Linked DNA regions of Homo sapiens. The protein of the gene in region 3 purifies or fractionates together with the protein of the main gene of each other region. This does not show direct contact. Each region holds a gene or a part of one and is shown on either strand. Other genes may lie near its edges. The genes, in order: MIPEP, BTBD1, CDC42SE1 and EIF5B.

Region 1 (7,935 bases), on a different chromosome or scaffold from region 3:
CTGAGATCTCACCTTGTCAGCTGCTGCTGTTAGTACTTTACATATACTTATTACCTGTATCCATGCTGTAAGGTATGTATCGTCATTCCCATTGTACATGATGAAAAAAATATTTCTCCTAGGAGGAGAAATAACATGACCAGGGTTATAAGCTAATAATAATTATGGCTAACATCTATAAATGCTCTGTGCCAAACACTGCTTTATGTATATATATATATATATTTACATATATGATCTCATTTAATCTTTGCGGCCACTCTTAGGTTCTGTAGAAGTGACAGCTGGATTTTGAACCCATACCATTGTTGTTGTTGTTTTTTCCGGAAAATAATTAAAAATTGAAGAAAAATTATGTTCTGAAAACATTTTTAGTGTAATTTATGTGGAGTGATATGGGGAGTATGATAGTGGTATCTGTGATCACAGGTATAACATGATACACCAATGAAAGTCAAGATCTCCTTTGTGATAAAAGTAATTTTAGTAAATATAAAAAAAGCACAATTTTGAATTTTGGTTATAAATCAGACGTATTCTTTGGTTCTAAGGGTCTTTTTGGAGTTCCTGAGCTGAGTGCCCCAGAAGGATTTCATATTGCACAAGAAAAAGCCTTGAGAAAGACAGAATTGCTTGTGGACCGTGCATGTTCCACCCCACCTGGGCCCCAGACCGTGCTGATCTTCGATGAGCTCTCGGATTCCTTATGCAGAGTGGCCGACTTGGTAAGGTGCTTTACCTCAGACTTGAAGCTACCTCTCTTTCAACTTGTTAAAATTTAAGTGAAATTTATCCTTTGTTGTTTACTATTAATATTAGATTATAAAGTTAAAAATGTCTGAAACTGAGATCCATTGGGTATAATTTTTTATGATGAAATATGTCATTAGGAATGGGAAAATATTATAGGAAAAGGTGATATTTAGAACTTGTACTTTAATACGTATGTTTAATAAAATATACATGTAATATATAATGAATGAATACTAATATAGCAAATATTTGCTATATTTGGGTAATATATATTTACATATATATTCATTTGACAGAGATTCTTCATTTATGAAAGTGTCTCCCAAAATTCTAAGAACACTTTATGTGTACATTTACAACAAAATTCCCCTTTTTCTTTTTTTTTTTTTTTTAATAGAGACAGGGTCTCCCTGTGTTGCCCGGGCTGATCTTGAACTCCTAGCCCCAAGTGAACCTCCTGCCTCGGCCTCCCAAAGTGCTGGGATTATAAGTGTGAGCCACTTCTTTTTCATAAGAGGTGTGAAAACCAGTTTTAATAAACCTTTTCAGGAATGCTTTTTTTTTTTTAATTAAAAACCAAGTTTTGACATCAAAATGATTGTAAAGACTTTTTTTTTTTAACATTTTAAATTTGAAATAGAAGTGTATACCTAGATCTCTTCAGCAACTAGGAAATCCATTGCTGAGATAGCAAAATTTTCTTTTTTTTTTATTTTTAATTTTTGTGGGTACATGTATATATTCATGAGGTACATGAGATGTTTTGATAGAGGCATGCAATGCATAGTAATTACATCAGGGAAAATGGGGTATCCATCCCCTCAAGCATTTATCCTTTCTGTTACAAACAATCCAATTATACTCTTCTGGTTATTTTAAAATCTACAATTAAATTATTATTGACTGTAGTCACCCTGTTGTGCTATCGAATAGTAGGTCTTACTCAATCTTCCTGTTTTTTTGTAGCCATTAACCATCCCCACCTCCCCCATGCCACCCTGCTACCCTACCTAGCCTCTGGTAACCATCCTTCTACTCTTTATTTCCATGATTCAGTTGTATCTATTTTTAGGTCCCACAAGTGAGTGAGAACATGTGATGTTTGTCTTTCTGTGCCTGACTTATTTCACTAAACATAATGACCATCCATGTTGTTGAAAATGACATAATCTCATTCTTTTTTATGGCTGAATAGCATTCCATTGTGTGTAAGTACCATACTTTCTTTATCCATTCATCTGTTCATGGACAGTTGGGTTGCTTTCTCATCTTGGATGTTGTGAACAGAGCTGCAGCAAACATGGAAGTGCAGATATCTCTTCGATATACTCATTTCCAGGAAGCAGGGTTTCCTATCAGCTTGAAGGAGCTGACTCTTGGTTACTCTTGTCAAGGAAAGCAGCACACACAATTTAAATAGTGATCATTTATGATCCTGTCTACATGGTATAGAACTGCATAGGTTTTTCCCTCACATTCAGTCAATGTTGAGCACGTACTGTGTGCCAGACACTGTCTAGGCATGAGGGATACATGCAGGAATGAAACAGACACAATCTGTTACTTCATGGAGTTTATATTCTGGCATTAACTTGTTTTTGGAAATTTAACTAGACTGTAGGCCCTTTCTACAGCCTAGTTAGCTGAAGAAGCTTTCCCTGGATGAGCTGAGGTAACCTTCTCAGCATATCTCCATTTTCACAAGAGGGAAGAAAGGCACTGGGTGATGAAGGGATGTGCCCGCTGTCAGCTGGCCAGCGTGTGGTGCAGCTGGGCTGCCAGCCCAGGCAGGGTATCTGTCGAGCTCTTCTTCTTTCTCCTGTTCCAACCATTTCAGGGCTGGCTGGCTGCTCAGGTCTCATGAATCCTTACCTGGAAAGGTTGCAAAGTTTGTTAGCCTCTCCATCTTTAAAAAAAATGTATACTTGTTTTTAAAATTATTATTCTGTAAAATTGACTTCTTTTGGAGGATGGTACAGTTCTATGAATTTTAACTCGTATAAATTTGTGCAGCCCTCACCACAATCAGGATACAAAGCTGTTCCATCCACCCCCAAAAATCTCCCTGTAGTCACACCCCCCCCTCCCCACTAACCTCTGGCAACCACTAATCTGTTCTCTCTCCCTATAGTTTTGCCTTTTCTAGAATGTCACATAGGTGGAATCCTGTATACCTTTGACTGACTTCTTTCACCCAGCATAACTCATCCCCATCTTTATTTTTTTTCCTTTTTTGGAAAATTTCCTTCCACCCATACAACTGATTTGAGCATTAACACCTTTCAGATGATTATATGTTCACCACAAGCCTCCCGCTCTTAAGAAAACTGATAAAGTATCTTACTGTAAAGGGTTTTTCCCTGGAGTGAAGTTGCAGGCTCTGAGTAGTTCTGTTGTACTGGGTTTTTGTTCTGTGCCTCCAGTATGTGCATAGGAAATGTGTCTTTGAATGATGGGGAAGCTGTGGAAACGCACTGCCAAAAGGAGGTTTCATACCCTGTTCACCTAATTGTGTCACAGAAATCAGAAAAGGAAAATCTGTGTCAGTGAATTTCACTGTATCGTCAACCCTCCAGATTGGGGGATCTGTGGAGTCAACCAACCTTGGATCAAAAATATTTGGAAAAAAAATTTGCATTCATACTGAACATGTACAGACTTTCTTTTCTTGTCACTGTTCCATAAAACAATACAGTGTATCAGCTATTTACATATTGTTTACATTCATTAGGTATTACAAGTAATCTAGATATGATTTGATGTATGGGGTGTGCTGTGTGTCGGTTATATGCAAGTACTACACCATTTTATATCAGAGACTTGAGCATCTGTGGATTCGGGTATCTGTGGGAGGATCAAACCATTGTCCATTGATACTGAGGGGTGACTTGGCGTGGCTGTCACAAATCCCAGAATTCACTGTGTATTTGTTGTCTTAGTCTTCATCTTAATCAGTATTCTAGGATTTTTTTCTACATTTTTGCTTTTGATCTTCACTAAAAGATTTTAACTTCTCTGCGCTATATCTTATTTTGACATTTTTAGTATTTATCATGTATAATAATATCTCATTTTGAAAACTTAAAAAAAAAAGATGTGATTTGTATATGTAGTTCTCTGGGTATAAAAGAACCTTTCTCTGTTCTGAATTTTTAAGATATTACCTGCCAGTAAGATTATCTGAATTTTTAATATCTTAAAAATATCTGAATTTTTAAGATATTACCTGCCAGTGAGATTAGTACTGTTATAAGGCAATCGTTTTATAAACTGTTTTTCACCAAATAGTCATTTTATTTTGTTTTCTTTTTTAATACAGTTTTTATGTAACAACTGTTTTCCTCATCACTATTACAAATCAGTTTTTAATATGTATGCTAGTGTTTTGAATTTTAATATTGATTATAAATTCACAACCCGTAGATTAGTAATTTGTAAAAAAAAAATGTTGTAAATTTACATAACTCATTTTTCAGGTACTTTGGTACTAATGTTATTTTATCGTTACCAATTGTTACAACAAATATACCAAACTATGGATTTAAATGTTTTGGCATTAAAAACTATTTGATAATAAAATTAAGAAATTTTATCTTGTGGTGATTTTATTTCATGTTATAGTCACATTTTCTTGGCAAATAAAATATGTAGTGTTTTGTAGTTTCTCTGCTTTTTGTTACAGTTGACATGAAAACAAAAATTTAGTTTTACATCATTTTATCTTTTTAAAAAAGAACTGTCACTCATTTTAATGTCTAATGACTTAAGTAGCAGCAGCAGTAGTAGCTGTATACAGTATTACATGGAGACTACGAACTCATATTTTATTGAAAGGACTATGAAGAGACCGTGCCTTTGTTTTCTGCACAAAGACTACCATGTAGTTAAATCAAAGACTAGAATGTAGTTAAATGGGTTTTGAAACTATACTATGTGTCAGTTAAAAAAAAAAGCCTTTAAGAGTTGTTTTCTGGAGATAAGTTAACATGTGAAAACCATACTGCAAAGAATTTTAGCCAGAAAGTTGTAGAATATTTGAAACCAGTGTCTGCTCTTTTGAAATAAAGAATTAGAGGGCGTGGTGGTGGGCACCTGTAGTCACAGCTACGTGGGAGGCTGAGACAGGAGAATGGCGTGAACCCGAGAGGCGGAGCTTGCAGTGACCTGAGATTGCGCCAATGCACTCCAGCCTGGGCGACGGAGCAAGACTCCGTCTCAAAAAAAAAAAAAAAAGAAAGAAAGAATTTGCTTGGTGTTTATATTTGAAAGAGAAAAACTTTTCTGAAATAATAAAAGTCTTTTTTTGGAGTGAAACAAACTTGGTTTCAAGGAATAACAGAATTAAATGTTCAGAAAGAAGCTGCTTTGCTTTACTCGCTTAGGAAAAAGTCAGTAATGGAAATGCATAGGGCAAGCCAATGGCACATCTTAAAACCCAGTTTTCATTTTCACCCTCAGATCCTGGAAGAAAGCTTCTCATCAAATTCCCTTTTGGTTTTGTCTTTCCCCTTTATTAGGCTGATTTTGTGAAAATCGCTCACCCTGAGCCAGCATTCAGAGAAGCTGCGGAAGAAGCTTGTAGAAGTATTGGCACCATGGTAGAGAAGTATGTGCTGTTCCCCTCCCCACCTCCATGCCAAGTCCTGGGTGATCCGGTTTCATGGACTTGTGCCGTAGGCAGTTTTGTCCATAGCGCTTGTCCCTCACCCAGCAGGGTGGGAGGTGTGTGTGACCAGGGGTGGCCGGAGGGAGGGCTCAGGACAGGCCATTGGCTCACCTCGCAGGCAGGCACTGGGCCTTAGGGCTGGTTGTCTGTTCTCTCAGTCATTTCCTTGTCTGTAAATGGGGTCGAAAAGTTAACCCTGCCTCAGGGTCCTTGTGAGTGTTAAATGAGATCAATGTAAAGGTGTCACTTGATAATCTGAGATGACAGACACCCAGGATTCTTGTCATCACCATTATCACTTACCTTAAATAAGGGCTTTTTAGTGTCCTAGTGGCAAGTTGGACTTACTAGATTATCGCTTGATTAAATTGCTGTTGCATCAATGGCTGTGGGCCACGGGGCGAGAAGCCAAAATGCTCTATAAACAGTGTCCTTGTGGTCCCTGTTGAGTTGGAATTAGGGGAGTCTAGGGAGGCTGTAAAAGTCTGTGGGAGGGCTGGAGCATGCTCTGGCTGAGGCTGTGATAGAGTGAATTATTTTAAAGTGATTTTGGGGTAAATGTGAGTATTTTTAAGCCACTTATAAGAGCTCCATAATGCTTGTTAAAATAACTGAATGGTGGACAGCGCTGTATTCCAACACACTTAGCTGCATGGCACCATGCCAGGCAGTGTATAGAGCTAGGGAGAGCCCTGGGCTCGCCAGCGTGGATTTACAACAGGGAAAAGGGGGTAACACGATAAGACAATTTCATATGCCAGAAATTGTTGGAGGAGGAGAGTGATGGCTTCTCTGGTTAGACGAGGCTTCCTTGGAAGACCCAACACTTCAAGATGTGCAGCTGCTGCTTTTCCCCAGGTCGCCAACATTTGTTCACTTTGGCACAATCGTGTGTGACTTTTCCCATAGCCGCTGAAAACCAACTTGCGTAATGGGACAGAACGGGGCCCTGCAGAGTGCAGATACTGGGCATGCTGACAGGGCTGAAAGTGGGGACTCCCTGGGAGAAAGCTTTGCCTCTCGGGGAAAGGCCCCTGGGAAGGAGTCAGCAGTGGGCTGCCTGCTCGAGGCTCTCTGCATGCTGTGTCCTGCCGAATTAGACGTGGGCTGGTCTCATGGACAAGCACTCTTCATTTTGTCGGAGGACAAATACAGACTGAAGTATGGGCTTTATCTCAGGGTCTTCCAACATAAAACATACTACTGGGAGATTTCCTTAAACCTCTGCAGTGGGGGCAGTGCGGGCAGCCTCTGAGCTACTGTTCCTTTGCCATGGAGTGGCTCCGTGGGTGAGCAGGTTGGGAGGAGGTAGGCCTCCACACTCACTCTCTCCCTGACTTCTGGGATCCGTGTGTGGGAGTCTGGCCCTTCTTGGTGAGTGTTTTTTTGATGGGTAATGACTATCTACGTTTCACTAGTATTTGGGAAGGCCCATGAGAATGGTAGCAGAAACCCTTCGATTCATATAAATCTTAAGTGTTTTTTTGTGAACCAACTGAGGAACAGGAGTATCCTTGAGTCTCTGAGTAGCGACTGGTGAGTGGTTCTTACAACCTTATCCCTCCTTGAAGACCTACCCAGCAGGGTGCAGATTGTATCTAGACCCAGCTCACTATTTAGTTTTGAGGGGGCCATGGCATTTGCATTTAGGGAAGAGGACTGGGTTCCTGCTAGTGGTACTATGGGGTGGGTTGGGACCACTGCCCAGCATTGGGCCCTTTGCTCTCTGGATGGCACAACTGCTCAACAGTGGCCATGGTTCATTCACATAGGAAATGTGTGCTGCACACATGATCTCATTTAATCCTCACGGCAGCCTAAAGTCTAAATAACGTGTCCAAGGTCCCACAGCAGTAACAAGGCCAGTCTTGCATCCCAGTTGGGTGGCTCTGAAGCCTGTGTCCTGAGCTCTCCCTTACAGTGTTTTTAAATTTAAAAATTAGCTGGGCGTGGTGGTGTATGCCTGTAGTCCCAACTGCTTGGGAGGCTGAGGTGGAAGGATCACTTGAGCCCAGAAGATTGAGGCTGCAGTGAGCTGTGATTGTGCCACTGCATTCCAGCCTGGGTGCTGGGTGACAGAGTGAGACCCTGTCTCCAAAATAAGGGAAAGAAAGAAAGAAGGGAAGGAAAGAAGGAAGGAAGGATGGTTACACTGTTCCTGGTAGGTTATGCTGTTCAGCTTCTGGGCATGTGTGTGGTACAAGCTGACACCATTCTTTTCATGTAAAGTTAAAAATAAGGTATTAGAAAATCATCTAATTTTTTAAATTTCTATTTTTTCTAGGTTGAACACAAATGTGGATTTATATCAAAGTTTGCAAAAATTACTAGCTGATAAAAAACTTGTGGATTCCCTTGATCCAGAAACAAGGTACTCACTCATTTCTTTGCCTTGATTGTGACTGTGACTCTAGAGGTGAGGTTGGGAGACTCTCCCTCAGGGCCTCTGTACTTGCAGCCTCTGTTGTCTGGAATGTTCCTCCCCAGGTATCTCTATGACTCCTGCACTTTCTCTA
Region 2 (7,265 bases), on a different chromosome or scaffold from region 3:
GGGTACTTCCCTCATACTGATGCTGTGAGAAACAAGTAAGAATGTAGTAAAGTACTCATTGCAGAGCCTAGTAGTCACTTGGGTAGTTATTAATAAACAGCTGTAAGATGATAGTCACACTCTTAACAGTAAATAAGATTATTTATTGGATTCTCCCACATTCAACCTCCACCTCCTGATTAGAACAGGAGAAAAACCTGAGGCCACAAGAAATGATCAAGAAACAAAAGGCTGCGGCAGTTATCACTGCAGTTCCTATGAACTGGTTTAAATCAGCAATGAGGTATTTGTATTTTGTATTGCATTACTCCCATTAAGTTAAACCTCAATTAACTAGAACCTTTGTTCCAAAATGGTGTTGACAGCCAGGCGTGGTGGCTCACGCCTGTAATCAATCCCAGCACTCTGGGAGGCCAAGGCAGCTGAGGTCAGGAGTTCGAGACCAGCCTGGCCAACATAGTGAAACCCCATCTCTACTAAAAATACAAAAATTAGCTGGGCGTGGTGGTGGGCACCTGTAATCCCAGCTACTCTGGAGGCTGAGGCCGCATAATAGCTTGAATCCAGGAGGTGGAGGATGCAGTGAGCCGAGATTGCACCACTGCCCTCCAGCCTTGGCAACAGAGCGAGGCTTCATCTCAAAAAACAAACAAAAAACAAATCAAAATTCTGTTTATATTCACTTTTAGAAGAAAAAGGCAAATGACATAAAAGAGTTTTTTTTATATATATATATATTTATTTATTTTTAAAAACTCCAGGGGATGTCCCAAAGTTAGTAAACAGTTCTGTTTCTTGTCCCTTTTATGGCTGCATGCAGTTTCAATTGTTCAGTACAACAGATGAGGCATTTAAAAGGTCTCCAACGTCAAGAAACACTAACTCATCTCTGGCATATCATATTTTTTAAGGCAGAAGTATTTTCTGTAATGGTTACTACAGAGTGTTTACTGGTTAATTTTTAGTTAACCAGAACCACACATCCCATAGATAATTCCATTTAACTGAGGTTTATATCCGTAAGAGCATTACCATAGAAAAATTTCCCTTTAGCAATTTCAAGAGACCTCAGCCACCAATATACCTACCTTCTTTACAATATAAAGTGAAATATTACTTTAGATGAAAATTTTTTGTATCTTACTTAGAAAAAATTAAGTTGATATTTAAAAGAATTTTGATTTTTAATCACCTTCCACAACGATTTGATATACCTTAAACTCCACTTTCATTTTTTATAAGAGAATCACTTTCAAGGGAAAAAAATGGATGTTACTATATTTTAAAATCTGCTTTATAAAAAAGTGTATAAATATCAATCTGCCAGATATACTTCCTATCCCCAACACAGCTGTAACACTGACTAATGGGGTCATGACCATGAAGCAAATTTTACTTCCTAAATAGAAATGTGTAGGTGGCAGAAAGCGTATTTTTCAGCAGGAGTGATTCTGTTGGATCTCTTTACAATGTCAGAGCAGTTGTTAGAAATGTTAGTATTTTATTCGGTTTCTTGCTGTGAAGGATTATCACAATGTTGAAGTGATGGCTGTTCACCCAGTCGTCATCACCGTCATCATCTCAATCTTGGGAATCATCAGCAGTGTCCCCCACACAGAGAGACAGGTATAGTGGTGCAGTTTAGTGACAGGGAATCCAGTCTTAGATCCTGTTTATATCACATTTTTGTGAATTTACACAAAATTCCATTTATAGCTTTAAAACTGTACTACATAACACATTACTATACTACTACAAAATATCCTTCTCTATAAATGCACTGAATATTTTCTTGGGCATTTTATTAGGCCTTTTTTAGCATTATTACAAATGCTAACAACAAGATACTTCAAACCACCAAATATAAAGTCAGCTTCTTAATTTTCTGAAATTTAGTTATTTGAGTTAATAAGAATTCTGTAGGAATACTGACCCATCTCTTTTCATCCAACCTTCAAAATAGTTAAGCCTATTTGCCCATCTCACCTAACCTTCAAAATAGTTAAAACAAAAACAAACCCAAACTAGCTATATATAACAAGAATCTTTCAATTCCCAAACTATTGAAAGACCCTAAGTCAGCCAATCTATGAAATTATACAAGATGAAGGTGAAAAAGCTGTGCTTTTTTTTAAACCATTAAACCCAGTTCTTTTCTCTTAAAGTTGTAAGAAAATGGAAAATCTGTTTTTAAATCATGCAAAGATTTAAATAAGCATTTTTCTATCTGCTCTAAGAAACTGTTTCTTATCTTACAATTTTAAATATTCATAACACTCAAACTACTTTTTTGTGGCCATTTATGTTTTTGACACTAGATTGTATGGTATTATTTAGCCAAGATGTATTATAATGCTAAATTATGTATAAAATATGATTTCTGGAATTTGTCCATCTTCTATTGAAGTGCCATTATTATTGCCAGGGGAACTAAAAAAGAAAAAAACAGTCTTGCTTGCAGCAGGTGTCTCATGCACTACTTTCTTCAATCCTTTTGTGCCATAGTGGGAATCTGGACCCTAAATGAGAACAAAAGGTTCCTTAGTAATTTTCATTTAATAAGCACTCAGTTTAATGTGGTGTTTTAATTAGATTAATGTTCCATTATATTTCACTATCATTCCTATATAAAATTTTATGCTGTCATTTAGAGAAAAATGAAGTTTTTACCAAAAAACTAATTAATGAATAAAAATACTGAATGTACAGCCCAGCTATTAGAGAATAGTGAAAAGATTTTACAAAAATAACTTTTATTTTCTGCCAAACATTCAACTGCTTACTGAAACAAAGGGCTACTTCTTAAGAAGAGCTATTTCTTTCAGAACAGAGCTGTGGGGAGAAGTACTTCTTTTCGGAAGGCAGTGGAATATTTTAGCTCCCAGCTTCTTTTCCCCCCTCTTTATAAATGGCTCAGCTGTCAGTGACTCTCAGCTTCTAAAACACACATTCTGCAACATTCAAGAGGAAACCATCTGGAACATAGTGCATGACTCTTACTTTGAGTGTTGCACATGCTGTGTAGCACACATTGGGCAGGATCTCTATGGGTTCCTTGAACATGACCCTGAATGTGTTAGCTGTCCCATCACAACTAAAGCCGGTATCATTCTGTCCCAGGGTTTGCTTTTTCTCATATTCAATGATCTGTAATTTTTAAGAGACAAGTTACATTTAAGTTAAACCAAATAAAGCAAACTATAGAAAATAATATAAAGCCCTTAGCAATGTGTGCGTGTGTGTTTTGAGACAGACTCTCACTCTGTTGCCTAGCCTTGGGGGTGGGGGGGTGGGGGGTGGTGTGTGTGTGTGTGTGTTTGAGACAGACTCTCTCACTCTGTTGGTGGGTGTGTGTGTGTGTGTGTTTTTGAGACAGACTCTCTCACTCTGTTGCCTAGCCTGGGGTGCAGTGTTGGGGTCTCGGCTCACTGAAACCTCCACTTCCCAAGCTGAAGCAATTTTCGTGCCTCAGCCTCCTGAGTAGCTGGGATTACAGATGTGCGCGACCACACCTGGCTAATTTTTTTGTATTTTTAGTAGAGACAGGGTTTCATCATGTTGGCCAGGCTGATCTCCAACTCTTGGTCTCAAGCGATCTGCCCACCTCAGCCTCCCAAAGTGCTGGTGTGAGCCACTGCGCCCAGCCCTAATTTTTCATTTTTTTTGTAGAGATGGGATCGTGTTCTGTTGCCCAGGCTGGTCTGGAACTCCTGGGCTCAAGCAATCCTTCCACATCGGCCTCCCAAAGTACTGGGATTATAGATCTGAGCCACTGCGCCCAGACTGTTTCTATTATTTTACTCACAGTATTTATACTTCATAATTTTAATGTACCTATAATCCTGATGCCCTCCCACAGTTTGTACACAAGAAGCCTGGTGTCTTTTTTTTTTTTTTTTTGAGACGGAGTCTCACTCTGTAGCCCTGGCTGGAAGGCAGTGGCATGACCTTGGCTCACTGCAACATCTGCCTCCCAGGTCCCAGTTCAAGCAATTCTCCTATCTCAGCCTCCCGAGTAGCTGGGATTACAGGCATGCACCACCATGCCCAGCTAATTTTTTTGTATTTTTAGTAGAGACAGGGTTTCACCATGTTGGCCAGGCTGGTCTCAAACTCCTGACCTCGTGATCCACCTTCCTTGGCCTCCCAAAGTGCTAGGAGGCCGAGGCAGGAGAATTGTGTGAACCCGGGAGGCGGAGCTTGCAATGAGCCAAGATCGCGCCACTGCACTCCAGCCTGGGCAACAGAGCAAGACTCCATCTCAAAAAAAAAAAAAAAAAAAAAAAAAAAGAAGCAGGGGCCTAATGCCTGTAATCCCAATGCCTTGGGAGGCCAAGGCAGGAAGATCACTTGAGCCCTGGAGTTCAAGACCACCCTGGGCAACACAGCGAGACAAAAAAAAAAAGAAAGAAAAATTAGTTGGGCATGGTGGCACATACCTGTGGTCCTAGCTACTTGGGAGGCTGAGGTGGGAGGATTGCTTGAGCCTGGGTGATTAAGGCTGAAGTGAGCTGTGATCGCACCACTGCTCTTCAGCCTGGGCGACCAAGTGAGACCCTGTCTCAAAAAAAAGTAACCAAGAATAAAGCAGGGTCTGCTCAGCCCCTTGGAAGTCACAGGATGCTCACACCAGTTACAAGAAATTTAGTTTCAGTCCTAGAGTTGAAAGGGCCATGAAAAAGGCAGGAGGATGTTTTAAGACTGCACAGCAGGAAGTACTAATAGAAGGGATTCCTGGACAAAGAAGAGCTCCTTATATGCTACTGCTTTTGTGAAGGACCCCAATTTTCTGCAACCAGACTTTTTAGATCAACTCTAAAACAGAACTCTTTATGCTTACAATGCTACTAAGGGGCCTTCTGATTGCTTTGACAATTATATTGAAATTTGGATTCTGTCAAAACAATATCTTAAAGTTACCTGTTTGTGTTATTTCAAAATGATATATGGTGGGGGAGGAAACTGTACCTGTATATTCACTTGATAATCTGTAGGGCCATGAATAGATCCATACAAGCCAAATCCAACTATAGAGATCCTTCTATTAACTGTGAATCTGAGAGAAAGAAGCCAAAAATAAAATATAATTAATCCCATGTGTTCATATTCTGAAGGGTTATAATTTTTTTTAAGTGTAACCTGGAACATCCAGTTTTGCTTATAAAAAGGAAAACAAATTAGATATCCTTGGAAATGTCATCTGTTTGCTTACCAAAAAGCTTTCTAGAGCAGATTTGAACTTAAGAGGAACCTAAGAATTGGTTTTGTAAAAGAATTTAACCTAAATACCCACTTTTGTTGTAATGATAATTTTAGTGCTATACGAGTCCAAATATTTGTACATCTTTTTCATGAACGCAGACATCTCAGCCATTAGGACTGAAGCCCAGCATCTCAAACTACGACAATTATCAATTCAACAAATACTTACTAAGGGCTTATCATATTTAGGTACTAGGCTTGGCACTGCGGAAGTAATGGTCAACAAGACAGTTTCTACCTGCATTGTGCATACAGTCTAATGGAGGACACTGATAATGCAAGAAAGGAATAAATAAATAATTACAAATTGTAACAAGAGCTGTGAAGGAAGTAGGCTACTCTAACAGAATACTGGTAGCAGAGGGATGGGACAGGATTCGAATGCAGTTTCCTAACTAGAATAATTAACAAGTCCAGTTTGGTCATAATAGTTAAGAAATATTGACCCATCTTACTCCATTTTGTAAATGAATAAAAACTGACATTAAATACATATGGAACTGAGGCTGGGTGTGGTGGCTCACACTGCAATCCCAGCACTTTGGGAGGCTGAGCCAGGTGGATTACCTGAGGTCAGGAGTTTCAGACCAGCCTGGCCAACATGGCAAATCCCTGTCTTTACTAAAAATATAACAGTTAGCTGGGCATGATAGCAGGCACCTGTAATCCCAGCTACTAGAGAAACTGAGGCAGGAGAATCGTTTGAACCTGGGAGAAGGAAGCTGCAGGTGACCCGGCACTCCATCCTGGGTGACAGAGCGAGACTCCTTCTCAAATAATAATAATAATAATAATAATAATACATATGGAACTAAAAGCCTGTAAAATCTGACATAATTATAATGTCTTACATTGCAAAATTACATTGAGTAACTCTCAACATTGTCAGCAACACCTTCAATTATTAGTAATACTAACTCATCAATACCACTTCATGAGTACTTCCTAGTGTGCCAGGCACTGAACTTCAGTTCTTTACAGAATTATTTCCTTTAGTCATCGTAACAGCCCTATAAGCTAGATAACAGTACTATTTTGAACATCTGGTACAGTAAGATCACCTTAAACGCTTACAAACATGTAATTTTTTTTAAAGAGATGGAGTCTTGCTCTATTGCCGAGGCTGGGGTACAGTGGTACAATCATGGCTCACCACAGGCTTGAACTCCTGGGCTCAAGTGATCCTTCCACCTCAGCCTCCCAAGTAGCTGGGCTGCAGACACACTCCACCATTCCTTGCTAGTTTAATTTTTTTTTTTTTTTTTTTTACAGATGGAGTCTAACTAAGTTGCCCAGGCTGGTCTAGAACTGGTCTCAGATGATACTCCCAACTCATTGTCCTGAGTTGCTGGGATTATACCCATGAGCTACCACTCCTGGCTCTAAAATATGTTATTTATAATTTTTTATTATAAAAAAGTAGGGCAGGCACAGTGCCTCATGACTGTAACCCAGCACTTTGGGAGGCTGAGGTGGGTGGATCACCTGAGGTCAGGAGTTCGAGACCAGCCTGGCCAACATGGTGAAGCCTCACCTCTACTAAAAATACAAAATTAGCCAGGCATGGTGGCACACCCCTGTAATCCCAGCTATTCGGGAGGCTGAGGCAGGAGAATTGCTTAGAACCCGGGAGGCGGAGGTTGCAGTGAGCTGAGATGGTGCCAGCCTGGGCAACAGAGCGGGACTCCATCTCAAAAAGAAAAAAAAAAAATAGACCAGGCACAGTGGCTCACGCCTGTAATCCCAGCACTTTGGGAGGCTGAGGCAGGTGGATCATGAGGTCAGGGGATCGAGACCATTCTGGCCAACATGGTGAAACCCTGTCTTTACTAAAAATACAAAAATTAACTGAGTGTGGTGGTGTGCACCGTAGTCCCAGCTACTCAGGAGGCTGAAGCAGGAGAATCGCTTGAACCTGGAGGCAGAGATTGCAGTGAGCCAAGACTGCACCACTGCACTCCAGCCTGGGCAACAGAGCGAGACTCCACCTCAATCAATAAATA
Region 3 (8,437 bases):
AGACAAAGTGGAATCCCTGGAACCTTTAACTGAGCAGTGAAGGTCAGTGTCTCAGAGCCTGAGAGATGAACAGGACCAGAGAGAGAGGTGGGCAGGCAGGCACAAGGTTATGTCTTCCTCAGACTCGGAACCCTGGATTAGAAGAAAGTAAAAAGAAAGATCAGTGAGAAATCTCCCCCTCCCCCAATCCTTGAGAAACCTCCTGATGAGCCTATATCTTCCCAGTCCTCCCTGAGAGGCCCTAGACCTGTACACCAACACTCATTCCCAAACACTATGAACCTCAGTTTGACTCTAAAAAAAAGGAACAGAACCAAAAGGACACCAAGGGGTTAAGGAGCAGTGGCTGGTGGTACCAAGGGAGAGGAAGGGGGCTAGAAGCACTTAGAGTTAAGAGGATGGGCGAGGACCAAAGGATAGTGGCAGAAATTAGCAAAGTTTGGGGTGATACAAGCTCCAGCTCCCTTCTCTCTGAGTTTAGGGCAGAAGGGGAGGGGCATTTAAGTGACTCTGAAGAGGAAATAGTGGTTTTTTGTTCTCACAAACAAGGTCTCCACCCTGTCCCTGCCTTTTTTCTTACCTTGCCCTGAACGCCTAGAGTTTCTTTAAGAACAGGAGAGCCCTGGACCACTGAGGTCCTAGGAGACTAACTGGCAGGTTGGCCCTCAGGAAAGACTTTCTACAATAAGGAATTTCTTCCCTCTCTGTTTGCTGCCCTATTCCTCCTGATTTCCCTCCAGTGAAATCCAATCCCTCCCAGAAGCCAGTCAGCAGCAGTTCCTTTATTACCTGACCTTGAGATCCTTCCTGAAGGCTGTGTACATTCTGTTTATCTGTGTCCTGTATCACTGCACTCCTGTGTGTACACCTCTGTTTGCACATGCGTGGCATGGCCATATCTCCACGTGTGTCCAGTACAGATCATCTGTGTACAGGTTGTGGGTACATGTGCCAGGTATCTTCTGTCCCATGAGGAATATTTTCCCCACCGTCCACATGTCCTATCTGCCACTCTGCTCTGCCTCACACCCTATAGGGCCCAGGCTCCCCTCCAGCTGTGACCTGTTCTCCCCTCCCTCCTCACCAATTCTATCCTCAAGCTTCATCAGTGAACCAGACATAAGGAACTTTCCAATAGTACTAGTGTCCAAGGAAGAACTTCCTCCCTTCTCACTACTGCCAGCCAGGGTAGGACACATCTGGGTTTCTTCTTAGACTCACTTGCATTTCCCCAGTCCTATAGTACAGACAACCTCAAAGATTCCAAAAAGGGCAGTTTCATAAATATGACACTTTAACATGAACAGGAATCTCCCTTTCTTGCAGGCCGGGAACCCTGATGCTTTGGCACCCTAGACTGATTTAAAAACAAGAGATAGGCCGGGCGTGGTGGCTCACGCCTGTAATCCCAGCACTTTGGGAGGCCAAGGTGGGCGGATCACCTGAGGTCAGGAGTTCCAGACCAGCCTGGCCAACATGGTGAAACCCCATCTCTGCTAAAAATACAAAAGATTAGCTGGGCGTGGTGGCGGATGCCTGTAATCCCAGCTACTTGGGAGGCTGAGGCAGGAGAATCGCTTGAACCGGAGATTGCAGTGAGCCGAGATCGCCACTGCACTCCAGCCTGGGCAACAAGAGCGAAACTCCGCCTCAAAAAAAACACACACAAAAAAACGAGATAGCAGGGTGTGGTAGCATGTGCCTGTCATCCCAGCTACTGGGGAGGCTGAGGCAGGAGGATCACTTGAGCCCAAGAGTTGCGGCTACAGTGAGCCATGTTTGCACCCCTGCACTCCAGCCTGGGTGACAGGACAAGACCCTGTCTCAAATACAAAACACACACACACACACACACACACACACACACACACACACACAGAGGTTTTTTTTTTTTTTAACAGCCTTGAGATGAGATCACACAAACACTCAAATGTAGCTTCTAGGGGAGGGGAGAACCCAGGAGGCTGGGCTTTCTCTTCTCTTCTCACCACTGGAAGGGAGGAGTAACCAGAAGGAGCGGAAGCTAAAACACGCTGTCCAGAGAGGGGAGCTGTGGTCAGTGGGACGTCAGTGAGTCAGTCATAGGGTTTGTCCTGATGGTGGTGGTGGCAGGTGGTAAGGGTTGGGGAAAAATGAAGAATTAGAGGAAACCCCCAACACCAGCAGGCAGGCTGTACTGTGACTGGACTCTCCCTCAACATCCCCCACTCTGCTCAAAGCTGAGGGACAGAGGTGGATAGTGCTGGGAGGGAAGAGAAGAGAGGGGGAGGAGAAGGAGAGAGGGAAAGGGGCAGTGGAGAGAACAAGGCCATTTCTGTTTCTTTTCCAGGGACCTGACCAGAGCTGGGTGGAGGGAAAGCGTGTGTGTGGGACTTGGCATGAAATGACCAATGATGACGAGAAGTGACCAGGAAATTCCATTCCCTAGGACATTAGGGTCTCTGAAACTTGAGGGTGGGGTCAGAGTGTGAAGAAGACAGGTCAGGGTGAATGTGATGGTAGCGCAGGGCAGTGGGGGATGGGAACAAAGCCAGAAAAGGAAGTAAGAGCCACTGGCGGCCACTCTTCTTTAAAGCAGCCAGAAGAGAGTGGGTTGAGGAAAAATGAAGTCCTGAGCTGGTCAGCCCAGGCGGAAGAGCCACCCGAATCCAACCCCACAGTGAATAGGGAAGGGGCTGAGAAAACAACAGGAGGGATGAGGATTAGACCTCATAAGGCCACGTCCTGAGAGCCAAGTGGTGCTCAGAACTCGACCTCTCTGAGTTCCAAATGGCAAGAGTGAAATATGGAACCGGGAAAGCCACCCCCCGCCCCCACCAAGATCATACTAGGACTTGAGGGTCTCAGAGCTGTTGGGAGGTGAGCAGAAGGGATGGGAAAGAGGTGCCAGGGAGGAAGGATGTACAGGCTAGTTCTCTGGTCCTGTTCGGGCCCCAAACCGGTTCTCCCGGTCCCACCGCCTCTGGCCCTAAGGCCTCCAACCCGCGGCCTGACAAGCCCTCACATGAAGCAGCTGGAGAGAAAGAAAGAATCGAGAGAATGGCATGGGCAATTCTGGCTAGAAGCCCGGGGCAGCAGCTGGTCCCTGTGTGGAGACCCCGAGACATGGAGGGCTGCTGAGGGACTCTGGAGAAGCGGTGTGGACTCCATATTTCAGCCAAGTGACAGGCCCAACACCAACCTTCCCTTCCCCAGGAAAGGTCTTCTGGGGGCTTAAGAGGAAAGAGGGCTAGGCCCTAAGCCTCCCCTCCCCAAATATATTCAATCACACAGATTCCGTATCTGTCTCCCCCCACTACACAACTCTACCTAGAAGTTCTCTGCTGTTCTCAACCCTTAACCGGACTGGGACCTCTCTGGGAATCTTTCGGACCCTCTCCCTCCCACCTCCCCCAACATTCCAGTTCCTTCTTTTCCTTCTACTCTTCAGCGGCCTCAGCCTGCGCACCCCAGGAGCGTGGATGACTACGGCCACCCCGGGCGCGCACCCCTTTCCCACCACCCCAGCATCTCTGCAGCCCAGGACACCCGCCTCCCCCACACCCCGCATCCGGTGTGTCTCCGCCTGGCCCGGCCGGCGCGGCAGGCGGGCCAGGGGACCAACTGCACGGCCTCACCTGCTCTTCTCCACCATCCAGACGTTCAGCTACAGCTGGTGGGGGTGAGGGACTCTGCTCCGTGGCCGCCAGTGTGGGCTTCCCGGGCTAGCTCTGCGGCGAGGTGGGGGAGCCGAGTACGAGCCGGCAGAGGTGGGGCCGGCTGAGGGCGGAAGCGGCGGCGACGCGATTACGAAACCCGTCCGGCTCGGAGCCCGGCGCACTGCTCCCCTCTGGACTGCGGAGGCACTGCACTGCGCGGGACGTGGGAGGGTGCCTCTGCAGCCCCTCAAGGCCGCCGCCCCTGCGGGGAGAACTGGAGAATGCGGACACCTAGATGAGGCCCTGGCACCCAAGCTGGGGCCCCCGGAATCTCACGTTCCCTTTACTCGCCAGGCATTTCGGGGCAAAACGAAGCGGAGCCCCCCAAACCCCCAGACCTAACCAAGTTCAGAGATTCGCAGAAGCACGCCCCCCACCCCAAATTTATTGTGCTCTACCCAAAATGGAATAGGACTAGGTTTATTTACCCATTGTGAGGGTAGAGAGGCGAGTCTGGAGGAGCAGGGATTGGGAGAAGGGGTGGAAAAATACTCTGATTCTTAAAAATACTTTGTAACCTAAAGTCCTTAAATTGTGGAAGAAAGGAATACTCCTCCTTTCCATTGTAGTCTAGAGTTAAGATTTCAAATCCATAAATTAGAGGACCTAAAATTAGAGGGCAATTAACTGCTCATTCATTGGGCCCCCAGTCAGCACGGGGGTGCTGGAAGAGATCGGGAATAATAGCGCAGACCAATGAGCCTAGGGAGATGCTTTCATCGTCTCTCCTTCCCTCAAGTGTTCTGGAACCTATCATTTGAATTAGCCGAGTCAGGCAGGAGGGGGCGGGGAATCCTTCCGCCCTTCTTAGGAGGGGCTGCATTGCAGGGGGAGAGTGAACTGACAGACTCAGTCACTGAAGAGGGAAAAGGAGTGAGAAGACAAAGCCGTCAAAGCCCCAACAGCTTTGTATTTCTCCAGCCCGGCGCAGACCCCGGAGCTCCCGAGGCACTCCCTCCATCTTTGGAACACGCCAGTAATTGATTGATAACAGGTAAACCAAACTGAGGGAGGGGGCAGGGGGCTGCAAAGATAGAAGAGCGGCTGCTTATGGTTAGATTGAAAGACCCCACATGAGGTGGGGGACAGCTGAAGAGGAGAGAAGGGGGCGCTATGAACAATGGGTAGTTATTTCTTCACAGCATCCATGCCTTGTTACCTTATACAGACCATTAATCTCTAACAATTTACTTGTAGTTATTTCTCAGCACCTACCTCATTTCAAGTATCCTTTTCTGTAATTTATTGTCCTGTGTATTTAATATCTTCAGTCTACTTATCTTCCTTTTCAAACCATAATTTGTTTTACCAGCTGTTTAATTTTTAGTCCTACTGTATCTCTCTGTCCTCTACTTCCCTATACTTGCAATTTTTTTCTGTAGTGTTCTATGTTTCTCTGTAGGAGGGAGTTTGGGAGGGGGTTATATGGGATAATGTTGGGTGTAATCCTGACCTTTCTTTGGATAATCTCTTTCATTCCACCTCGAATCTTTGCTCCAAAGAAAGAGGCAGCCTAGGGTAGGAAAGGTGGGGGCCTCTGTGTTGGAGAACTGCCTGATTCCATAGTGAAATCAGTATAGCCCACAGGAGCTAGGTATGGGGACAGATTCTGGAAAAGAATGATTTGCAGCTCAGTGGAATTGGTGGAGGAATGCTAGTAGGAAAATCCAAGCTCTGACTGAGGCACACATTATGAGATGTCAGAGAGGTTCTGCTCCCCTCTACCACCACCACCACCTTGTCCTTCCCCCTTCCCCATGGTGGCAGCATGACACAGCAAGGCCCTGTTGAGTAGGCCTTGGATGCCCACAAAGGGTCTGGACAAAGGATATTTGGGCGTGTCTGTGTGGCTCCGAGAGTGTATCTTTCTAATCTATACATTTGCTAATCATGTATCTCTAAGAACAGAGTGATAATTAGATATTGCCTTTGCCTAAAATACCCGGATAATTTAAAGTGAAGGATAGTGGGAAGCATTTATTGAACATATATTGTGGTACAAGGCACTGTCAAAACCCTTTAAGTAAATGATACCATTTAAGATAATGAAAGATGTAAAGATAGATGAAGTAGGGCTGGAGAGCATTTGTGGAGGGGAAGGGGAAGCTAGCCAAAAAAGGATCTTTTGCGAAATTTGGAGTATTTGATAATTAAATCCATACTATATTAAATCAAAAATGTCATTACTACTTACATTAGTGAATAGCATTTTAACTTCAATTTTCTGTGTAGTATTACTTTATGTTCTTGACTTGATTTTAATGCCACGTATGTTTGCATGCATGTCTTTCTTGAATGTATTTGGTACCCTGTGTACATGTCTCTGGGTCAATGACATAGAGATTTTAGGCCTTTTGAGTTAATATTTCATAAAATTTGCTTTAGCTTTTTAAATTGCAAGATAGCTCTACCAAACACTCAGGGACTGTTTGAGCAGTTTTTTATACATACTCTGGTTGTAAGAAAAGGAGTCAGTTTGTCGAAGAGCTTTTTTTTTTTTCTCAGATTCTAGCTTGCTCTACTGCCCTTTGCTTTTCCCCATTCAGATCACAATTACAGGAACAATCACCTAAACCACGGAAAATCTATTCTTCAGCAACTAAAAATTCTTTTAAGTTTTGGGAATACTGGTATAGGGTTATATAAAGCTGTTGGCAACTATCCATGTACAACACAAAAAGGGATCAGATTGGGAATTATGAGATCTGGATTCTATACAAACTGGCTGGAAGTCTTCCCAAGTCATTAATTTCTAAGATGTCTTCTAGTTTTAAAATTCTATGATTTTTTCCCCCCATGATTCTATTTTTTTTTTTTTTTTAAGATGGAGTCTCGCTCTGTTGCCCAGGCTGGAGTGCAGTGGTGCAATCTTGGCTCACTGCAACCTCCACCTCCCCAGTTCAAGCGATTCTCCTGCCTCAGCCTCCCGAGTAGCTGGGATTATAGGCGCCTGCCACCACACCTGGCTAATTTTTGTATTTTTAGTAAAGACGGGGTTTCACTATCTTGGCCAGGCTGGTCTCGAATTCCTGACCTTGTGATCCACCTGCCTCGGCCTCCCAAAGTGCTGAGATTACAGGCGTGTGCCACCGCGCCTGGCCCCATGATTCTATTTTTTAAAGAGCCTATAATGTGGCCTGCATTATACTAAGCTCATTCTGGAGAAGACTTGTCAGGTAGGATAGAGAAAAGAACCCAGCTAGCTGTGAAAATAACTGGTAACAGTAAGAATCCCTGTAGCCACAAGTCCATAACAGTATTGACTCCTAGGTATGCTTCTTAGAATCTCTATAGTCCCAGATTTAAGCAGTGGGTGGTTGGTTAATGGATACAACCATTTTTTGTAGCTCTCTTTCTGCACACGTCTCTGCAAAGTACTATGGAGATTATCAGAGTTGAGTATCATAGGATGATGACCTCACCTTTCCAACATGCTCCCCGACCCTGCTGCAATCCCGGCATCACCCTCCTTCTAAGCAGCTTCTCTGCTGAGTAATGCTCAGTTCCCAGGGTTTATTTTGGAACTTAAACTAAGAAAAAGAACAACTCAGAATTCACTTTCAACATTAAAAACATCCTAGCCTACCCACTCACCATTCCTGAAGCCCCCACACTCTCACACATCACTGTGTTCTAGATTAACACTTTCTTTTTCTGCCTTAGTACAGTCATTTCACATTATACTGGAGCATTTTGGAACCTATTTAAGGCCATTATTTAGGAGTCTCTGGCCTGGTGAGACCCAATAGGGTGTGTTGGAGAAAGGCCTTTTGAAACTTGGGGTTCTGTTTTTGGAGGTGATAGAATGTTCTTTCTGCTCCTTTGGGAACATTTCAACTAATGCTTCTTTTTTTAATTTTTATTTATTTATTATTATTATTATTGAGACGGAGTCTTGCTCTTTCGCCCAGGCTGGAGTGCAGTGGCGCTATCTCAGCTCACCGCAAGCTCCGCCTCCCAGGTTCGCGCCATTCTCCTGCCTCAGCCTCCCAAGTAGCTGGGACTACAGGCGCCCACCACCGCGCCCGGCTTAATATTTGTACTTTTAGTAGAGACGGGGTTTCACCGTGTTAGCCAGGATGGTCTCGATCTCCTGACCTCGTGATCCACCCGCCTCGGCCTCCCAAAGTGCTGGGATTACAGGCGTAAGCCACCACGCCCGACCACAACTAATGCTTCTTGACCCTTGGCTAGTAAGTAGCAGGGTGGAGGCTGTAGGCAGCTCTAATAGTCCTAAAATATCAGGCAGGGCTTGGGTAGAATGAGTAGAGAAAGTGATAGATCCATTAACGCATGGAAGAGTATCTGATTCTGTTAAAATACCTTCTTCCAATCTGAACTTTACTTTAAATCCAAATGGATTTCCAATCCATTTGCTCTCATTATCATCAGTATACTCGAGCACTGGGATCAGAGAAAAGAGATCCCTGTTACAGCATAGGAAAGTTATTTATTTATTTATTTATTATTACTTTTTTTGAGATGGAGTTTCGCTCTTGTTGCCCAGGCTGGAGTGCAATGGCGAGATCTCGGCTCACTGCAACCTCCACCTCCCAGGTTCAAGCAATTTTCCTGCCTCAGCCTCCCAAATAACTGGGATTACAGGCATGCGCCACCTCGCCTGGCTAATTTTGTATTTTTAATAGAGACAGGATTTCACCATGTTGGTTGGGCTGGTCTTGAACTCCTCACCTCCTGATCTGCCTGCCTCGGCCTCCCAAAGTGCTGGGATTATAGGC
Region 4 (7,935 bases), on a different chromosome or scaffold from region 3:
ATCTTGCAGGGAAATACTGCTATGTGCCTGAAAGGAAAAAAGAAAAGAATTTTAAGCTTACAGAATCACTTAAACATAAAAAGAAAAACTGCAGCTGAACATCAGGCTTCTCCCATTAGAGGAAAGCAGCTTTCCCCAGCGGCCACAGGAGAGGGGCAGGCAGGGTGCTGCAGCCCAGGGCCACCCCATGCCCAGAGCGCTTCTTCCTTGTTCTTAACCTCCTCCTCCCCATTCTGTTGCTTCCCAAGTCTTTGCTTTCTTCTCTTTTAAAGCCCTACCTCCAAAAGAAGCTGCATCACAGGAGCATTCTGTTCCTAGTCTAAAACACTGAGCTTGGCTGCTGAAGATGTCAGCCACAGTCTGGGGCTTAGAACCTAGGCAGTACCTGGTGACAGGCAGGTCTTCGTTAGGCACATATGTAGGCTACTGGGGGATCACATAGGCATCAGACCGTATTATCACCCTCCTTTTCTCCACCACGTTCCCAAACCATTGATCCAAAAGGCCACTACATAACTACCCTGCTTATTGAGCACACGCTTAAAATGCTTTAAAAGTTTCCAGCAGTCTTGTTAAGTAGAATTCTTCTCACTTCAGGTTTCATGATCTAAAGTGAGCATATACCAGTCTAAATCCTAATATTTACTAGTAAGCTCCACTTAAAAATGTATCCCAAACTACGCCATCACTCCTATCATCACTGTGGTCTGAATCACCTAGACCTCTTGCTTGGACTGTGGGAGCCTCCTGACAGGCTCTTGCCACTGACTTCCTAACAACCCAAGGTCCACATAACAACCCAATTAACCAGTCTGATTGTGAACACACAGCCTTGGCAATGGCTTCTTGCAAAACTCAGAGAAGCTCAATCCCTCCCATGGCCTGTAAGATCCTTGACGATACAGGTCCTGCCACCCTCTCTGACCTCATTTATCACTGTCCCTTCTGGTCACTCTGCCTCGCACTGCTGTTCTCTCTGGACACTCCCCATGTGCCTGTGTGGCTTACTCTGTCTGAAGAGGTGAGATGCCTTCCCAAACCACATCATTAATCACAGTCCCTCCTCTCCTTATCTAGGCCCTTCCCTGCTTTATTTGGTTTTTCAGCACTTCTCAACATGTGTCAATTGTCCTGCAATAAGAGCATGTCCCAGACCAGGCACAGTGGCTTACACCTATAATCCCAGCACTTTGGGAGGCAGAGGCAGGTGGATCACTTGAGCTCAGGAGTTCAAGACCAGCCTGGCCAACATGGCGAAACCCTATCTCTACCAAAAATACAAAAAATTAGCCAGGCATAGTGGTGTGAGCCTGTAGTCTCAACTACTCGGGAGGCCAAGGTGGGAGGATCACTTGAGCCCAGTAGGCAGAGGTTGGGGTGACCCATGATCATGCCACTGTACTGCAGCATGGGTGACAGAACGAGACCCTGTCTCAAAGGGAAAGGAGGAGGGAGGCTGGCCTGGTTCTCTGCTGATGCCTCCTCTACCACTGCAGCAATGTAGGTACTGTGAGTGCTTGAGTGAAAGTTTGGTAGAGGAATGGACTTCTCTCCCACAGAATCTCTTATTTCCCGGTTTTCCTCACTCAAGTTTTGTTACTTCCAATCTATATAATCCCAGATGAGCAACATAAAGTCCCTACATTTAATAACTACGAACCCATTAACAAGACCCAAGTCTGCCAAGATTATTAAACTGAAGTCACAGACAAGACTTGTTTGCATACTGCTGGAATGTCCCCAGTATGTTGGGTTTCTGGTTTGTAACACACCATTTCAGGATGCAGCCTCTGGTAGATGAGTAAATGCCATGATTTTGCTGTTTACAGCCCTTTCTGGAATTCAGTAATTCTCAATCATGTTCATTAACAAAGACTCAAAGTAAATAAAAACAGTAACTTACTTAAATTCTTCTTGTTTCTGTTTCTTGTAGTCTTGTCTATATTTTGTAAAGGCATCAAATAAATGATAAATAATTTCTGCACTAAAAATTCTAACTCCTAAACTATCAGCCATTTCTTGTGCATCTCGTTCAATTCTCACATCGAAGGCCAAAATTACTGCATACCTAAAAGGTTAAAACACATCAAAGACCATTCAGTGAAAAACAGAGTATGTCACAGAGGACAGTTTTTTAAGATAGGACAGTTTTAAGATAGCTACGTAACATGAAAGCCTTCATAGCAAGAGAAATTACTTACTGAGGGTCATGTTCCAACATCACTGAAGCCTTCATAACATCTTTTTTATGCACTGGGCCAATGTTAATTCCTGCATACTGAAAAAATGGGAGTTTCCATGTTTATCTGTATGTATCAGGTAATGGCGATGGCACCAAAAACCACGACCAACCACCATTCACTTGTGGAGCGAGTTGTAGTTACTTACGGGCACTTCTGATGTTTTCAGAAATTCCAGTAGAGCTTCCAAAGAACCCAGTGTAGATGCCTGGACATAGACTCCTTTTTCTTCTAATTTGATAGCATTTAGTGTCTGCTTTAACTCATGGATCAATTCATCCTTGAAAAGAAATCAGATTTGATAAGGTTGTCAACACACCTCTATCCTCAGCAGTCTAGAATTAAATTGTGTTTCTCTCTTTGGTTAAGTACTCATCTGCAAATATGAAACTAAGGCTTAGATAGAGCAAGGCATCACAGAACCTGTGCTGGAATGAAGGAGGAGATTTCGGGGCCATACCCTAACTGTATTTCGCTTCACCTTTGTCTTAGGTTTACTAACTTTGAAATATGTTTAATCTCCGCTCCACTTGGCAAATACAGTAGATGGGTGGGCAGAATTAAACAGTAGAGAAGAAAAATTTTTTTAAAGTTAAAAAAGTACCACATAAACGTAATGTGTTATGATAGCCCAAAAGTTCAGCTTGTCTGTGTTAACTAGGAAATACCATAATCTCATGATCTCAGCAGCTCCTTCCTCCATCACTGCTTGTCGGGAAATGGAAGAAGAGATTTTTAACCAGAAATAAGTAAAACAAGTTTATCAATGCCACTGAAGGGACGTAAGTCCACTCCATACTCAGGACTGGGTGAAGAGACAGGCCTGCCCTATTCTCTCACTGGCCCTAAGATAGCTTATTCCCAACAGCATGACTTGATGCTGCCTAAATAATAAACACGGCCCCAGGACACAAGAGCCATGTGCTGGGAACAGTTGTATTTTCTCTTTGGCAAATGAACAAACTATGGCTCAAAGTCCACTTTTATGAAACTACAATGGACATGGGCCAAAAAGAATATACAATTTCTAGCTTTTTTTTTTTTAGACAGGGTCCTGCTGTCACCCAGGTTGGAGTGCAGTGGCACGATCTTGGCTCACTGCAGCCTCTGCCTCCCAGGTTCAAGTGATTCTCCTGCCTCAGCCTCCCAAGTAGCTGGGACTACAGGTGTGCATTCACCATGCCCAGCCGACTTCTAGCTTTTGACTCATTTTTTTATTTGAATAAAATGCATTATTTTTATAATTCTAGTACATATAAAAATTATACCAATTTCTATGATTGTACAAACTGAAGTAATTCAAAAGCATCAAGTTTGCTAAGAGGCCAAGAAATGGCAGGCTTCACAAAGACAAAGCCAGTTTTGGTCACCATCCCTAGCATGTGCAATGCTGACACATGCCAGAACTCAAATAGCTTTTAAGGAAAAAAATTTTTAAATGAACTTACTTTAAGAACAGGGATTTCATCTTCTTTATAAGCCACAAGGAGGGGTAAACCAGCCAATGTTTTCTCCAGGTCTTTTCCAAGAATCTTTACCCCCTGAGCTGCTTCTACTTCTTTATGCTTTTCATACTGGTTCTACAGAGATAAAAACATTTGTTACCAAATGTACTTTAAAAGTGGTTAGCAGTAGAAGATGATATAAGAGAATCTCATCATGATATTAGAGAGAGGTTTCTTAAACGAGGCACAAAAAGCAATAATCACAAGACTGATAAATTTAACATTAAAATTAAATATTTCCATTTCTCAAAATACCACAGGAAAAAAAAAGTCACAAGAGTAGAAGATATTGCAAAACACACCAACTAACAAACCGGTATCCTGAATATATAAGCGCATATAAATCTGTAAGAAAGATAATGCAGAAGAAAAATGTACATCTCACGAAGGAGGAAATAAATGGCCAATAAACATTTTTAAATGACCAACCAGGTTAACAATTAGGCAAATGCACACTGAAACGGCAATGAGCTACACACTTAGCAGAATGGCAAAAAAAATTTAAAACCTAACATCCAAGAACTGATGAAGCTGTAAAACAATGAAACTAAAATACTGCAGTTGAGAATATAATTTGTTACACCCACTGTAGACAAGTGTGGCCTTCACTCCTAGGTATACATACCCTGGGAAACTGGCACAAACACATCAAGAGATGTTCACAGCAGCAGCATTATTAGTAACAACAAAAATCAAAAACTGGGCCGGGTGCGGTGGCTCACTTAGGGAGGCTGAGGTCAGGAGTTCGAGACTAGCCTGGCCAACACGGCAAAACCCCACCTCTACTAAAAATACAAAAATTAGCCGGGTGTGGTGGCGTGCACCTGTAATCCCAGCCTGGATGACAGACTGAGACTCCATCTCAAAATAAAATAAAATAAAATAAACATAAAAAACTGGAGATCACCTACATTTCCCATCAACAGAACAGATAGATATGTTGTGATATAGTCACACAATGGAATAGAAATCTTAAAATTATATACTTTTTTTTTTTCACTAAAGGAAGCCAGATATAGGCCAGGCATGGTGGCTCATGCCTATAATCCCAGCACTTTGGGGAGATCAAGGTGGGTGGATTGCTTGAGCCCAGGAGGTCAAGACCAGCCTGGGCAACATGACAAAGTCCCATCTGTAAACAAATTAGCCAGGTGTGGTGGTGCGTACCTATAGTCCCAACTATTCAGGAGGCTGAGGTGGGAGGATCACCTGAACCCCGGGGAGGTTGAGGCTGCAGTGAACTGTGACTGCACCACTGCACTCCAGCCTGGGTGACAGTGAGAGCCTATCACCAAAAAAAAAAAAAAAAAAAGAGCCAGCTATAAAAGTACACACTGAGAATAACTCCATTTCTACATAAAGTCTACAGACACTTCTAAGGGAAGTACTCTTAGACACAAAAACAAAGCAAAGCAAGGATATTTGTTACTGTCATAAAATGCAACCATGGTTAACTCTATGAAAGGTCAGGGGGTAGGAGGGGAAGGCAGGGGAGTTGATCAGGAAGAAGCACACAGGAAGCTTCTGGGTGCCAGCAGCGTTCTGATTCTCCATCTGGTTGCTTCCCAAAAATGTGTTAAACTTTTCTTCTATGTTGTGTGTACTTTTCAGGAGCAATGTTTTATTTCACAATTAAAAATGTTAAAAAACTACAGCTGACCCTTGAACAAAATGGGCTTGAACTGCATATGTCCACTTATACTCAGATTTTCTTCTGCCTCTGCCACCAAACACAGCAAGGCCTACCCCTCTCCTTCTTCCCTCTCAGCTTACTCAACATGAAGATGAGAATGAGGACCATTATGATGATCCACTTCCACTTAACAAATAGTAAATCTATTTTCCTTATGATTTTCTTAATCACGTTTTCTTTTCTCTAGCTTGTTTTACTGTAAGAATGCAGTATGTAATATATAAAACATACAAAACATGTTAGTCGACTGTGTATGTGATTGGTAAGGCTTCTGGTCAATGGTAGGCTATTAGGAGTTAAGTTTTTGGGGAGTCAAAAAATATATGTGGATTTTCAACTGGCCAGGGAGTCAGTGCCCCTAGCCCTCATGTTGTTCAAGAGTCAACCGTATTTAGCAGTGTAGAACCATAACAGTGTAGTTTAGAATCTGGCAAAGGCCCAGTCTGGTAAGCAGGTACTTTCACACATCTCTACTCTGACAGACAGGCCTTCCTGTATGATGACAACTAAAATAAAAGGGAGAGCGAGGGATGTATGTGTTCTGTATTAAGTCAAACAGCTTTCAAAGTGAGGAAACCATCTCAGCAGAACTTCTAAACACTGTACAAGTCCCCACGTGTCAATGCTTCCCACCTCAGCATACCTTCACTCGTAATTCCTTCATAGGAGGAGGTAACAGGAGGCCTCGAATCTGAGTTACAATGGGCCCTTCTACTCCAGGAACAATGATTGTATCTCCTTCCTTCAAACGCCCATTGATCAAGATGACATCTATAGTGGTGCCCATCCCCGGGAGAGCTTTAACCTAAAAGGCATTAATGCAAAGAGAAAGACATACATACAATGCACCATGTTCATTAAATCTAAAAGTAGTAAATATCCTCCACTCAAGGAACTTGCTATTTTTAAAAAAAAAAAAAACAATAAACTGAAAAGTTGATCATTACCTCCATCACCTGTGCTCTCAGCTCTTCACAGTGTGCAAGTCTCTTGCTCAACATGGTCTGAGTTAACTCTACAAGAAGGTAGATCAGACTTCCCATGCCATCACCAGTATGTGCAGAGGTAGGTACCAAAGACACAAAAGTGCGGGGATCTTTATTCTCATAAAACAAAGCAGCATTCAAACCCTAGGAGCAAAAATCATCCAAAATGCCAGGCTGTAAAGAAAACGTATCTGGAATAGGTGTGCCTCACTAGAAGCCGGATGAGCAAATGGCTCATCATTTTGAAACTCCTCATAAACACTAAAAATGATCATGTATATCCTATAAGCATTAACTGTATTATAGCAAAGTAGTTCTAAGTCAACTCAGTTTTCTAAATTAAAGTATTCAGACTGCAAAGAAAAAGGAGAAAAGGGAAGAAGAATTTAAAAAAAGTAATTGCTGTCAACAGAGGAAAAGAACCAGTATTAATGAAAATGCTGACTTCATTATAAAGATAATATAATACATATTCTGAGATAGGCTCTTCAGAAAGAAGGAAGGCCTTCTTACCTGCTGTGCAAATTCTACAATAATAGCCTTTGCTCGCTCCTCAAATTCATCTTTTGTATTCTTTTTCTGCTTCTTTAAAGTAGCAGCCACATCAGAGTCAGGACTCTTTTTCCAATCATATAACCTATCAATCTGAAAAAGTTTTTTCATGAGAAAGATCTCTAAAAAATTCAGAACATTCAAGAACTGTATTAATAGCTCCAGAAAATTCCTCATGTGTGTCTCATATATACAGAACAGTGTGACTTACTCATACACTTTATTGTACCAAAAGCTCCTTTCAGACTGCTTATCGGCACCTGCTCTTAAATTAGAAACTGCTGTGGTGCCATGCTGCCCCTGTCAGCCTCCATGAGTTCCTAAGTGGCTGCCATTTGTTTGCAAAAGATAACATCCTAGAATTATCCTAAGACTATTAATGTATATTGTTGGAATTCCGAAACAGTTTTTGTAACAAATCAATCAATCCCAGCAAGTACCATCACTATAAAATTATATACCAAAAAATTAAAAAATATATATTTTCTAAGGGAACAGCCTATTTTAATTATTTTATTGCTCAAATTAGGATTAAATCTGTTTTGTTAATGACAGAATCTATTTTCCCTCACTTTTCAACATGAGAGATAAATGAGCATAGAAGAAATGAAAAATACTTGCTAGCCAAACAAACAATCAAAAGCATAATCTGTCTGGGGACAGAGTCTAGGGTGACAAAATAAAGAATCAGACGAATCTGAATGCTACTAAGGAGACAAATCAGTAGGAAATGACGAAGATGTTAAAATTAGCATATGAGGTCCTTAGAATATTTATAAACATGCTCAACACCTTTAAAGGAAAAGCCTGAAGCTTGTAAAGCTAAATAATAAAAACATGTCTAACTAGTAATTAGAAATTAACACTTTTAAATGCTTATATTAGAAAAGAATATCAATAAAACCAAAAGCTAATTCTTTGAAATAATCCAATTCCTGCACATTCTTTCAGAAAACAGA

What was found.
Region 1: the proteins of CDC42SE1 (region 3) and MIPEP purify together in Homo sapiens (affinity purification with mass spectrometry; 2 studies listed by BioGRID and IntAct, with this or other methods). This does not show direct contact.
Region 2: the proteins of CDC42SE1 (region 3) and BTBD1 purify together in Homo sapiens (affinity purification with mass spectrometry; 2 studies listed by BioGRID and IntAct, with this or other methods). This does not show direct contact.
Region 4: the proteins of CDC42SE1 (region 3) and EIF5B purify together in Homo sapiens (affinity purification with mass spectrometry; 2 studies listed by BioGRID and IntAct, with this or other methods). This does not show direct contact.

Annotation. Positions count from the first base shown.
Region 1 is NC_000013.11:23,879,123-23,887,057, reverse strand, and holds part of MIPEP (mitochondrial intermediate peptidase), read left to right. Parts: intron 1-551; coding exon 552-725; intron 726-5,270; coding exon 5,271-5,359; intron 5,360-7,703; coding exon 7,704-7,790; intron 7,791-7,935. UniProt on the Homo sapiens protein: Cleaves proteins, imported into the mitochondrion, to their mature size.
Region 2 is NC_000015.10:83,015,707-83,022,971, forward strand, and holds the end of BTBD1 (BTB/POZ domain-containing protein 1), read right to left. Parts: intron 5,057-7,265; coding exon 4,969-5,056; intron 3,148-4,968; coding exon 3,001-3,147; intron 2,520-3,000; coding exon 2,361-2,519; 3' UTR 717-2,360; downstream 1-716.
Region 3 is NC_000001.11:151,055,862-151,064,298, forward strand, and holds the start of CDC42SE1 (CDC42 small effector protein 1), read right to left. Parts: upstream 3,762-8,437; 5' UTR 3,618-3,761; intron 926-3,617; exon of another isoform or gene 790-925; intron 133-789; 5' UTR 1-132. UniProt on the Homo sapiens protein: Probably involved in the organization of the actin cytoskeleton by acting downstream of CDC42, inducing actin filament assembly. Alters CDC42-induced cell shape changes.
Region 4 is NC_000002.12:99,388,852-99,396,786, reverse strand, and holds part of EIF5B (eukaryotic translation initiation factor 5B), read right to left. Parts: intron 7,070-7,935; coding exon 6,938-7,069; intron 6,569-6,937; coding exon 6,386-6,568; intron 6,244-6,385; coding exon 6,082-6,243; intron 3,821-6,081; coding exon 3,689-3,820; intron 2,521-3,688; coding exon 2,389-2,520; intron 2,279-2,388; coding exon 2,202-2,278; intron 2,069-2,201; coding exon 1,904-2,068; intron 28-1,903; coding exon 1-27. UniProt on the Homo sapiens protein: Plays a role in translation initiation.